Homo sapiens: one gene and its partners. The protein of the gene in region 1 interacts with the protein of each later gene in a biochemical or structural test. Each region holds a gene or a part of one and is shown in the gene's direction. Other genes may lie near its edges.

Region 1 (4,922 bases):
TAAAGCTTTTAGAAGAGATAAAGCCTGTTTTAAGAAAAAAGCAATACTTTTATCATATTTTCTTAATATCAAATATGCAGTATTTAAATTTTCTCACATTTCTAATTTTTAAACTGTTCAAATTAGAATCCAGCTTGAATTCATACATTATAGTTGGCTGATATGTCAAATATGCTTTTTTTTTTTTTTTAATTGAGATGGAGTCTTGCTCTGTCGCCCAGGTTGGAGTGCAGTGGTGCAATCTCGGCTCACTGCCAACCTCTGCCGCCCGGGTTCAAGCGATTGTCGTGCGCAGCCTCCCGAGTAGCTGGGATTACAGGCTCCCGCCACCATGCCTGGCTATTTTTTTTTTTTTTTTTTTTTTTTTTTTAGTAGAGATGGGGTTTCGCCATGTTGGCCAGGCTGTTCTCAAACTCCTGACCTCAGGTGATCCGCCCGCCTTGGCCTCCCAAAGTGCTGGGATTACAGGCGTGAGCCACTGTACCTGGTCAAAATATGCTTTTTAAAGGCAACCAAACAGTTTGCATTTCAGTTTATGTTCTATAGTTATATGGAGCCACGGATACATCCTTTTTCTATACTGGCAAAATGAGAAACATATTTTTCACCTGAATTTCAAAGGATATGACACTTCGTAAGCCTGGTAATGTTATTGGCCAAAGTACCAGAGGCCCAGGGCTTTCCCAGTTATTTAACAGTTACTGATATGTGTGCATCATGTACTTATTATTAGTTAATGCAAATAGTCCCCCAAATTTCTGACCTCTGTGAAACTGATGATGCTGTTGTCTAGTCAGTCATCGGTTATGTGAGACTGAATTAACCTATTCAGCAAGTGTGAATGCCTACCGTGTGTATGATACTGTGCTAGGTGCTGTAGAGGCCATATACCTGGGACACATAGCTTTCCTGCTCTTTAGGATTTCCTGCTCCTTGCAGGACAAAGCAGCCTGAGCTTTATGAAACTAGTCTGTAACTCTCAAACTTAAGCAAACATTAGAATCACCTGAAGGGCTTTAGAACCGTGATCACTGGGCCCTACCCCTAGACCTTGATTTTACCCGTAGAATTGGAATTTCTAACAAGTTGCCAGGTGATGTTGATGCTCCAGGTCCGGGGACCACTCTTAAGAATCACTATAGCAGGAATTTCTGATGTTTATTTATTAAGAAAAAAAAATCACTGCCTTAGTGTGCAGTGAAGGCTTGCTAACTAAACTATACTCCTTTTAGATTGTACTGTGACTATCAAAGGAAGATTTCCAGACCATTTAATTGAGTTTTCAGGTTCCATGAGTTTAAAAAAAACTGTTTATTAAAAATTGTGGTTCTGGAAAATAACAATAGTTGCCATTTGGTGATCACTTAACTGTATACCAGCCAGCAATACTTTGTAGAGTATCTCATTTAAAATATGTAATATGGTTTTATTTAATTAGCTTTTTTTTTTTTTAAATTTCCTGAGGCGGAGTCTCACACTGTTACCTGGGCTGGAGTGCAGTGGCACGATCTCGCTCGCTGCAACCTCCGCCTCCCGGGTTCAAGCGATTCTCCTGCCTCAGCCTCCCAGGTAGCTAGGATTACAGGCAGCCGCCACCACACCCAGCTAATTTTTAAATTTTATTTTATTTTTTGAGACAGAGTTTCACTCTTGTTGCCCGGGCTGGAGTGCAGTGGCATGATCTTGGCTCACTGCAACCTCCGCCTCCTGGCTTCAAGCAATTCTGCCTCAGCCTCCCGAGTAGCTGGGATTACAGGTGCCTGTTACCATGCCCAGCTGATTTTTTTGTATTTTCGGTAGAGACTGGGTTTCACCATGTTGGCAGGCTGATCTGGAACTCCTGACCTCATGATCCTCCCACTTCCCTCCTCGGCCTCCCAAAGTGCTGGAATTACAGGCGTGAGCCACTGTGCCCCGGCTTAATCAGCTTGTCAACTTCTAAGCACAACCTGTTGAATCAAGCTGTTTGGGCCTTATCAGAAAAAAGTTGGCCTATAGTTTCAGCTACTCAGGAGGCTAAGGCCAGAGGATCACTTGAGGCCAGGAGTTCCAGTCGACCTGGACAACATGGTGAAACTATGTATCTTAAGAAAGAAAAAAAAAAGTTGATCTCTGAAGAATTCATGAAAATATTTAGTCAGTTTTCAGGGAAAGATCTTATAGACTTCAATTTGAGCATCCTTATCTTATGTATGTAAATGAGGTAAAGGTTGAAATTTGCAGTAAATAGAATTTTGGTCATTTAAGTTATGTAGCTCATGATATATACATTGTATAACTATTTAGACTTACATGGTGCATGATTTACATTGTAATTACATAGAGGCTTATACAGTCTAATAAAAATTAATATTAACTATTTGATTGCAAAGAGGATTGTTCTGCATTTTATTACTTTTTTTTTTTTTTTGAGACAGAGTTTCACTCTTGTTGCCAGGCTGGAGTGCAATCTCGTGACCTTGGCTCACTGCAACCTCCGCCTGCCAGCCTAAGTAGCTGGGGTTACAGGCACACACCACCATGCCCAGCTAATTTTTTGTATTTTTAGTAGGGATGGGGTTTCACCATGTTAGCCAGGCTGGTCTCAAACTCCTCACCTTGGGTTATCCGCCTGCCTTGGCCTCCCAAAGTGCTGGGATTACAGGCTTGAGCCACTGCGCTCGGCCTGCATTTTATTATTCTAAGATATAGCCAAATTTTATGCCTGGAATTTTTTCCTGGGCTGGAACAAATTCCTAGTAAGAGTCAGGGAATATTCCGTGACTTGTGGCTTTGGTTAAAAAAGAAAAAGGAGTCAGGGAATGCAGTACCCTCTGATCACCACTGGGAGGACTAAAGCAGAAAATTCATTTGTCTCATATCCATTTTCAAATTTCAAATTAAACATGAAGGAGAAAATAAATCTCTTACCTGGGAAGCTTTAATGTCCTGTCTCACACAAGAAGTTAAAGGTTGTGCTTGGAGTTGGTCTGCAAAAGTAATAAGGAATTTGTACTCACCCGTCTGCACCTGCTTGTACAGAACAATTGGAAGGGCAGAAGTTGGCTTTGAAAGAAAAGGCCTTTTTTTGGAGGTGGGAGGGGCATCCAATTTTGTCTTCAGCCGAGAGTTCGCTAGCACTACACTCTAGCCACTCAAGCTGCTCAACTATGGTTGGTCTTGTGTACTTCTGTGTGCACTAGATAAGACATTGTTTCTGTGGGTTATGTGGGACCTTGAAGTTCAGTGTTGAAGCTCAAACAAAGCAGGTGTTTTTTCTGTATTTCTTGTTGACAGGCATTTGCTTTTTGTTGGACCTAAATATTGTGGGGTTTGTGTATGGACATTTGACACAAAAATCTGTATTGGTAGAATTTAATATAAAATCAGAGAAGTTGAATTCACAGGTTTTGTTCATAGAATTTTACATAACTCTAGTCTTTTTTCTTTTTTTGTGATGGAGTCTTGCTCTGTTGCCCAGGCTGGAGTGCAGTGGCATGATCTTGGCTCACTGCAACCTCTGCCTCCTGGGTTCAAGTGATTGTCCTGCCTCAGCCTCCCGAGTAGCTGGGATTACAGGCACCCGCCACCACGCCTGGCTAATTTTTGTATTTTTAGTAGAAACGGGGTTTCACCATGGCCAGGCTGGTCTTGAACTCCTGACCTCAAGTGATCCACCTGCCTCGGCCTCCCAAAGTGCTAGGATTATAGGCATGAGCCACAGCGCCTGGCCACAATCTTACACTACTTTCCTGAAGGGATGTGTGATGGAAAGAGTCTGGGCTTGAAAGTGGAAGACAAAAATGAGAGTCTAAGACTGATCGAGATAAAGATTCTGAAGAGGTAGAATGGACCTCATAAGATGGAGCAAAAAAGAAGGAACAACATATAAAAGGAGAAATTAGAATTTAGAGTTATAGACTGGAATTTGAAACTAGTCTTGAGATTTAACTGTGGACAAATTCACTCGGCTGTGCCTCATGGTTTTTTTTTTTTTAAATCAAAAGAGAATAACATCATTCAAGTTGTGTCTTGGTTTTTTTGTTTGTTTACTTAGATTTTTATGACTTCACTTTCTCAATTTCCTCTGTGGCCAGATTCATCAGGCATTCAGTCACTTTCATCTCTGTCAGGCTGGCCTTGTGTTCTGTCTGTCTGTTCTGCTGCATAGTTGTCATCCTGAGATCTCCCTTCACCCATATCCTAGGGATTCCCTTTGCCTTTCCTGTTCGATCCATTTTCTTCCCCTTGGTTCACTCCCAGGTTTCATTGCAGCAGTTCCTCCAGTGATTTTCTGAGAAAGTTGCTCAGAGGTAAATTTTTAAAATCCTTTCATATCTGCAAACATCTTTATTCTGTTCTCATACTTGATTGATATTTTGGCTGCATATAGAATTCTAGACTGAATGCCCTTTTTCCTCAGAATTTTGTTTTCTGTCTTATATAGCATCTGACACTCCGATTTGGAGAGAGAGAATGCTATTTTGAGTCTTGCTTATTTTTCTGTTTGTTTAAGGCTGATTGGAAGTTTTGTGCATTTGGATGGATCTTGAATACAACAGTGGGACACACTGTTATTTCTTTGTGGTGCTCTTGATACCAATATATTTAGTCTTATCACTTGGCCTAGGCAAGCACGGAATGCCCATGTTCCAGGGAGCTGAGTCGGGAGAGGGCAGAAGGAAAGATCTGTGGCTTTCTGCTTTCTCTGCTTGTTTTCAGTGTCCCTGCCCTCAGTTGTGCCCTGTGTCCCCAAGCCCAGAGACTTTCCATTTTGCCCTTTCTAAAGAACCTCCAGTTTTTTGCCTGAGTGGGAGAGGAGACCCGGGGGTCTGTTATTTAACAGACTGATAGATCTTCTTGTTTCAGGCTTACTTCACTCACACTTCTAGAGGTACTTGTACTACCAGTTCCTGAACCTTTTGAGAGTTCTATAATACAAA
Region 2 (4,223 bases), on another chromosome or scaffold:
GTGCTGGGATTATAGGCATGAGCCACTACTCCTGGCCCATTATGTCCTTTCTTGTAGATAAACCAGTTGTTATCGTTTTGCCACATTTGCTTTCTCTTGTTCTCTCTATGGATTGCTTGGTTGGTTGATGAGCTATTTGGAAGTAAATTGCAGACATCCTGACATTTCATCTCTAAATACTTTTAGCGTTAGTCTCTTTGAGGTTAGGATGGTTTCATGTCATTCCAACACTGTTTTACACCTAAAGCAAATTTATTTTTATATAATTTTCTTACACTTTTCATAAAAGAGCTCTAAAACTGTGTACAGGTCAGAGATTGTTTCTAGCAGCATATACTGCTAGTGCGTGGTTAAGATTTAGATCTTTAAAGTATAATGTTAGCTTTCTTGTTATATAATAATACTTCTATGCCTACTTACGGGTAAATATGAGTAAAAGTTTTGCCAATGTCAGTAGGAATTTTTTTATGAGATCAGTTTTCACAATGTGTTAATTATTAAGCACTCCCACTACACAGTCACTATCACAGGCCCTTGGAATTTGCTTATTGAATTTGTTTACAGTATTCCTATGAAGCATGAAAGAGATTAGTCAAGTGGATAACAGGGTGGCAGTGATCTCTTAGTCCATTTAGTGTTGCTTTAACAGAATACCTGAGACTGGGTAATTTATAAAGAAAAAAAGGTTTATTTGGTTCATGATTCTTGTGGCTGGAAAAGTCAAGGTTAGGCCTCTGGTGAGGGCCTCAGGCTGTTTCCACTCATGGTGGAAGGCAAAAGGGAGCCAGTGTGTGCAGAGATCACATGGTGAGAGAGGAAGCAAGGGCTGGGGGAGGTGCCAGGCTCTTTTAACAACCAGCTGTCTTTGGAACTAATACAGTCAGAAACTTACCCCTGAGGGAGGGCTTTAATCTATTCATGAGGGATCCACCCCTGTGATCCCAACACCTCCCATTTGACCCCACCTCCAACACTGGGGATCAAATTACAACATGAGGTTTGGAGGGGACAAATATCACAACCATACCAGGTGATGATGGTGGTGGTTGTGGTGGTGGTGGTTGTTGGATATAGACTAAGCCCTCTACCTTTTAAAAATTATTTTGTGAAAAAGAAAAAGGTTTTTCTTGTGACTTTGAATGACATTTGTTGTTTTTAAAGCTATAAACCTGCTTGACGTCTTGCACATCAGACTACTTGTTGGATCTCAGATTGCAGCAGAGATGCGGGAAGCCATGTATAATCAGTTGGGGCTCACTGGCTGTGCTGGAGTGGCTTCTAATAAACTGTTGGCAAAATTAGTTTCTGGTGTCTTTAAACCAAATCAACAAACAGTCTTATTACCTGAAAGTTGTCAACATCTTATTCATAGTTTGAATCACATAAAGGAAATACCTGGTAAGACAAATATATTTGAAAAGTACATATACGTCTTATTTTATTTCTTTTAATTTAAAAAATTATAGATACAATGTAATTAATTCTTAGGTAGAGTTGTCTGTGAGTTTGTGTGCATGTGTGTGTGTGTGTATACTTGGTTCCTGGAAAAAACTAAGAAAAACTGTAATGTTTTCTCAAGCAAATTTGGATTAAGAAATATGTGAAGGTACTTTTCTTATTTTATCTACTTTTGTATGGTTAGAATATGGTCATGAAAGTTATAGCCTAGAAACATATGGTCCTTTATTTCCAGTCCCTGGGTCATACTCTTATACTGTACATTGCCTCTAGAGAGGGGAGTTCGTCTTTTACTAACTCTTTTGGGATTACATATAAAATATTAAGGCTACAATGGACTTTCCAAAACATCTAGGCCAAGGTCCTCATTTTAAAGATTAGGAAACTGATTTCCATGAGGAGTTCGGTGACCTATTTAGGTCATGGGGCAAGTTTGTATCTTTGAAGATTAAATACCCAAGTTTTTATAGGCCATCAATATGTTGAACTACATTTCTGTGGTATTGCTAGGGAATAAGATGTTATAAAAGAGTTCTGTGGAAGTGAATTTCTAATACCACTGAAACTTAGATGTCATACTTCACATTTTTAACTGATACTTGCGTGATTCCAAAATGTATTATACACTGCCTTGCCTTCCTTAGTATAGTATAACTATAATTTGAAGTTTTTTGGATGACTTTGGTAGTGCATTCTGAAGAACAATGTCAGGTTGTAATAAACTGAGGACTATATACTGGTGCAAAACATTCTTACTTGGCTTTACTTTCGAGTTCTTGTATCTTTTTTTTTTTTTTTTAACAGGCTTTCTCCTTTCTCACTTATTGCCAAATTGCCAACCTTCTTTTTTTTCTGCTGTGAAAAATCTGTCACTCTACTTTAATAGTTCCCCCTACATAGCCATCTCCTCCAACTTACTGCTTTTACTGTGCAAGAAAACCAGATAACTGTGGAATTACTGTTTTTGAATGAAAAGAATAAGGAGACATTAAATAGCCTGTTTTCTCTTGTGAATAAAGTATGACCGAATTTTAGTGCAAGAACTTTGTGACAGTTTTGCTAGCAAGATTTTTTGTTTGTTTGCTTTCTGGCTCATAGTTGTATTCTGGATGGTAAATGTTAGATATGACTTATGGATAAATGTGTGGTGGTGCGTATAGGAATCAGTTAGGTTACCTAATATGTACACTTAATTTATTTTAATTGCTCTAGTGGCAGCCTTTTTGTATATTAATAATAATCATGATTTCTGAATATTTCTGGAATATTACATAACAGGTGGTAAAATTTTTGTTTTAGTAAGACAGCATTTATTGGCTGTCTCTGTATTCATTTTATTTTACTGCATTTTGTGAGGACTTCAAAGAGGTGCATATAATTCAGGAGCCCTGAGTGGAAGAACAGCAACCTAGTTTGCAATGGGGTTTGATCTTTGCAAAATACAGTAGTCCCCCATTATCTGCAGTTTCACTTTTCACAGTTTCTATTACCTGCAGTCAACTGTGGTCTGAAAATAATAAGATATTTTGAGAGAGAGAGGCAGAGACCACATTCACATAACTTGTATATTGTATATTGTTATAGTTCTGTTTTATTATTATTGTTAATCTCTTACTGTGCCTAATTTATAAATTAAACTTTATCATAGGTATATATGTAATGGGAAAAACAGTACTGTATATATAGGGTTTGATACTGTCCATGGTTTCAGGCATCCACTGAAGGTCTTAGAATGTATCCCCTGTGGATAAGGGGGGACTACTGTATAAATTATAGAACTTAAAGATAAGATTGATATATTTATAATATTTTAATTAGCTTTGTTTTAAGGAGAAAAGCTATTTTAACATTGTATGCATTTCTTTTTATTTAGGTATTGGCTATAAAACTGCCAAATGTCTTGAAGCACTGGGTATCAATAGTGTGCGTGATCTCCAAACCTTTTCACCCAAAATTTTAGAAAAAGAATTAGGAATTTCAGTTGCTCAGCGTATCCAAAAGCTCAGTTTTGGAGAGGATAACTCCCCTGTGATACTCTCAGGACCACCTCAGGTACATGATGATACTTATTTTAATTAAGTACTGGTTATCACATTATTTGAGATAAAGATTTCTAGTTTTAGTACCATGTTCTTACTATTCTAGTTTGCTTAGTATGTGATCCCTTTCCTATTAGAAGGCTGATTTATTATTAATAGATTGGATTAATAAGTATTCTTAAATGGAATCTTAAGCATTGATATTTTGATATCTTAAGTTAGCTACTATGATTGAAGACAGTGCAACTTAATTTTAATAGCCTATAATGCATATATGAGGCAAAATATTTTAATCTGTTAAAAATCTTGTTTTCAGAGTAGTCCAGTGATTTAGCAAATGGGAAAGGTATAATCACCCAGTTAACATTGACTGATTTTTTTGCTATGGGACAAGCACTTTACTGAGTGCTTTAAATATGTTAGTCCATTTAATCTTCACAACAAAGCATCAAGGTAGGTAGTACTGTTGTTTGTCCATTCCTTCTTACTTCTCTTCTTTCCTTCCTTCCTTCCATTCTCTCTCTCTCAAGATGAGGATACCGTACTTTAGAAAGGTTAAATAACTTGTCCAAGGATAAACTTAGATTCAAGTCCTAGGTGATTAAGAACTCTTGCCATAATCATACAATAAAGCTTGGAGTTGGTACTAGAGCTTTAGAGTTTTCATAACTTTGAATTATTTTATATTAACTGTTTTATATTAACTGTTAATACAGTAATATTTTA
Region 3 (4,223 bases), on another chromosome or scaffold:
TCATACAGGTGGGTGACACAAGCCAGGAAACAATCTCAGCAAGCTGGGTGGGACCGTCCACCGCCAGCAGCATGTGTTGGGGCCAGGCAGGCAAGTGGCAGTGTCCACTCCAGCGTTCTTTCCTGTTCTGTGGGCTCCCCACACACCAGGCCGTGGCCCCAGAGACTGTGCTTGCAACACTGGATTCCTGGCTTTTGAAGAAGGATCTGACCTGGAGGGCTTGGCCTGTGCAACTGCATCGGACTTATCTAGAATCTGAGGAGCCCCAGCTCACTCTGGCCTTCATTAAATAAACACTCAGTGGGAGAAGCAGCACGTGAAATGTCCGTGGAGGTCCCTGACCAGGGATGGGCTGCTGCTGCCTGAAATTGGGTTGTGATGGGGTGTAGTGGGTCAGCGTGTCTGGTTGTCCGGGGATAGCTTTTCTCTGTGTGGTGGTCCAGTTTGGATGGAAAAGGGTAGAAGGAGCTGAGACTTAACGTTTGCTGCCTGTGTGCCTAGCAGCGTGCCTGACTCTTCTCAAACTCACACACGTTCCTGGAGATCAGCAGTTTTCATCATACACATTTTCCCTCTCTAAATATAAAGGGAGGGAGGCACAATTTGAAACCAGGGTATTAATCTGTAAACAGAAGTTGTGAGGCTACTTCATCCTGGCAGGAGCTGGTGTTCTGTCTCCGCTAGACCCTCCTAGGGGTCTGAAAACTCCACCGAGGCAAACGGGAATGTTCTTATGCCCCAGTGTACTCACAGAGGGACACTTGGCCTGCCTAATAGCTGGGCCTGCAACCTATGCCAGTAATAATTACCTTCATTCCTTTGAATCTGCCCAGCGCTGGGGAGACAAGGGTGTGTAGAAGCAGACACATGTTGCCTCATGGAGATTTATGTTCCAGGGACATTGTGACTTGCCCTTTCCTGCCAGCCTACTAGTACTTTCCAGAGACAGGCTCTGCCATGCTGAGTCTCCCCACCTTGTGTTCTTGTGGAGAAAAATCCCTCCTAAGCAAGCTGGCGTGGAGAAAGGGGCTGAAGGACTTTGACCATCAGGCTTTGCTGGGGGAGGTGATGTTGGCAACTGTGGTAGGTGCAGAGTCAGGCTGTGCTGGGAGGCGATGTTGGGAACTGTGGTAGGTACAGTCTCTGCCCTTGGGCTGCTTTCCTGAGCAGTTGCCCTGGAGCCGCAGGGGGTCAGAGGGGAGGCCCTCCTGCCATCTGGAAGGTCAGAGAGGCCTGGCCCTCACACAGCTCTGCCGTGGCAGAGGTCAGAGTCCCACCGTGTGGGGGACCTGAGCTCTCCCTATGCCTCCCAGGAGCATCTGATGATGGAACTGCTGGGAGAGGGGAGGGGTGGCATTCCTGCAGATTGGGTCCTTAGGGTGTGTTGAGGCACGTTCCCTGGACAGACCTTTAGTTACTGTTGATGTGCTTACCTGGCTGGCAGCCACCTAGCAAGGGCTCTGAAGTAGGTGGGCTGTTCTCCCAGTCTTTGGGGTCTAGGGACAGTTCTAGTCTAGTGAAGGAGCCAGGCAGGGCACAGTAATGACTTTAGTAGCACAGCTTGCAGGACCCTGCATTGGGAACCCCACTGAACCCTTGGCCCATCCAACCTCCTGGTTTTTTTGTTTTGTTTTGTTTTTTGTTTTTGTTTTTGTTTTTCTTTTAGTCAGAGTCCCACTCTGTCGCCCAGGCTGGAGTACAGTGGCATGATCTCGGATCACTGCAATCTCAGCCTCCCAGGTTCAAGCAATTCTCCTGCCTTAGCTTCTGAGTAGCTGGGATTACAGGCATGCCCCACTATGTCCAGCTAATTTTCGTGTTTTTAGTAGAGATAGGGTTTTGCCGTGTTGGCCAGGCTGGTCTCGAACTCCTGGCCTCAAGTGATCTACCCACCTTGGCCTCCCAAAGTGCTGGGATTACAAGTGTGAGCCACCTCCTGGTTTTCTGGGAAATATTCCCAGAGTCTTGGGGACTTCTCCCAAGTCACAGGTCCCTGGCAGAACTGAGACTGAAACCTGGTTTTGCTTTCCCACCCAGCCACTGTCTCAAAGTGTGGCGTTTCTCTGCTTCTGCTCTGTGGCCACAGTTGTAACCCTCTGGCCAAGTGGCTCCAGCCGTCTCTGAAGAGATACAGAGCTGGGGCTCTGGCCCTTTTTTGTGTCCACTTTCACCCGGGTAACTTTTTCCCTGGTGAAACCTACCTCCCAAATGTTTCTTAGAGGCAGCCTGGAGGGAGACCCGCAGTGGCTGTGAGCCTGGGGAGGGCTGGGTGGTGCTGGAGAGAGGTCTTATCAGATCTGGAGGTGTGGTTTGCTGCCTGCAGCTATGGGAATGCCTTCTTCCACGTCAGGGTTGTTTCCTCTTCTTGGAGTGGTCTGGGCTGCCTCAAAATCCAGGAAAGTGCGCCGCAGGTATTCTACTCCTGCCCGCTGGGTGTGTCTGGAGATGGACCATGCGGAGACGCTGGCCCACGGTGGCAGTGTCTGCAATGCCGGGGAGAAGCAGCAAAGCCTGTGGCCAAGTCTCTCTAAGCTATGCCTTTTTAAAAGGCCATCCTTTCAGAAGAGGCTGGTTGAGATCTCTTTTTTATGTTTAATTCAAAGGGAAAGCTGCATAGGTGCCTTTGGGGTTAGGGGAATGATCTTGGAGTAGAGAGGGCAGACACAGATGAAGAACGTGCTTGATCACCTGTTCTATGTTGAGCACTCCACTAGGCTCTCGGCATATGTTGCACCTTAACATTCACAATGATGCTATGAGGCCTTATCCTGATGTTGCAGATGAGGGAATTGCAGCTCAGAGGGATGGAGAGACTGTCTTAGCAGGTGGTTGAACCCAGGTTGACTGGTCTTGAGAACTTATGTTCAGAACTCCACAGCTGTTGCTGTGGCGGGGAGATTCTGTGCAGGGCCATGGTTGCTGAGACCAAGGAAATGGCCAATAATAAAAAGGGCTGGGCCGAGGGCATTCCGTGGCTCAACTCTAGATGTTTGGGCTTCCTGGTGGCCACCCAGGCTGTGCAGCCTCAGGGTTCGGGCATGGGTCTGCTTCCCTAATGTCCAGGCTAGCACATCCTCAAAGACAGGACTCTCAGCACCATGATGCAGCCCGCTCTACGCTTGTCTCATTCTGAGAAAGGAGAAGCTGCCTAGAGATCAGTTTACTCATAATTTTTTAAATGGCTACCTGTCTTATTCTTTCTGAACAGTTCCTCTGATAAACAGTGTATTCTTTAACTTTCTACTTTTAATTAAAATATTTACAAAATACATAATGATATATGTTCACTATAAAAAAGAAAGTACTAGATGTACAACAGTGAAAATCACCCATAATGCCACCTCTCAGAGTTAATTCCAGTGCACATTTTGTTGTATATTCTTCCTGCATTTGCATATAAATGTACATGTGTATATTTGTGGCACATACCATGTGCATTGCCTTGTAAATGTCTTCTGTCTGTATCAGCACATATACATATGCATCAGCACTATTAGTGGCTGCATTGTGTGGTCATACCACAAATTCATCTAACCGGTTTCCCTGTGTGGGCCATTCAGGCTGTTTCCAAGTCTTGCTTTTATAAATGGTGCTGCAACGAGTATCTTCCTACAAGTGAGATTTGCTGGGTCAAAGTATATGAATACATTTAATATCTGTCCTCGTCTTTAATATCTTTATGGCATCATAACTCCCCCTCTCCTAAGCAGGAATGGCAGCCTTCATACATTTATCCATTTGCCACTGCATCTGTAATCACACTGACGGCCAAGAGTTTAAAAGGAGGCTGGGCCTGGGTGCGGTGGCTCATGCCTGTAATCCCAGCACCTTGAGAGGCTGAGGCTGGTGGATAGCTTGAGTCTAGGAGTTCGAAACCAGCCTGGGCAACATGGTAAACCCCGTCTCTACAAGAAATAGAAAATTAGCCATGCATGGTGGCACGCTCCTGTAGTTCTAGCTACTCAGGAGGCTGAGGTGGAGGTTGCAGTGACCTGAGATTGCATCATTGCACTCCAGCCTGGATGACAGAGAAAAAAAAAAAAAAAAAGAGGCTGGACATGGTCCTCTGGCTGAGATTCTGGGATAAGTGTCAGGAACTATGGCTTCTAGTTTTGTGGTTGCTTGTGTCTGAGGTTCTGGGCTATGTGTCAGGCATTGTGGCTTCTAGTTTTTGTGGTTACCTGCAGCAAAGGGGGGCCCCCTGGGCTGACCAATTAGAAGAA

Evidence for each region.
Region 2: the proteins of MARK3 (region 1) and POLI form a complex in vitro, tested with the Homo sapiens proteins (one large-scale study listed by BioGRID).
Region 3: of the proteins of MARK3 (region 1) and KSR1, one has a biochemical effect on the other in vitro, tested with the Homo sapiens proteins (2 studies listed by BioGRID).

The regions. Positions count from the first base shown.
Region 1 is NC_000014.9:103,391,368-103,396,289, forward strand, and holds part of MARK3 (MAP/microtubule affinity-regulating kinase 3), read left to right. Parts: intron 1-4,922. UniProt on the Homo sapiens protein: Serine/threonine-protein kinase. Involved in the specific phosphorylation of microtubule-associated proteins for MAP2 and MAP4. Phosphorylates the microtubule-associated protein MAPT/TAU. Phosphorylates CDC25C on 'Ser-216'.
Region 2 is NC_000018.10:54,279,506-54,283,728, forward strand, and holds part of POLI (DNA polymerase iota isoform a (long)), read left to right. Parts: intron 1-1,161; coding exon 1,162-1,398; intron 1,399-3,331; coding exon 3,332-3,510; intron 3,511-4,223. UniProt on the Homo sapiens protein: Error-prone DNA polymerase specifically involved in DNA repair. Plays an important role in translesion synthesis, where the normal high-fidelity DNA polymerases cannot proceed and DNA synthesis stalls. Favors Hoogsteen base-pairing in the active site.
Region 3 is NC_000017.11:27,459,437-27,463,659, forward strand, and holds part of KSR1 (kinase suppressor of Ras 1), read left to right. Parts: intron 1-4,223.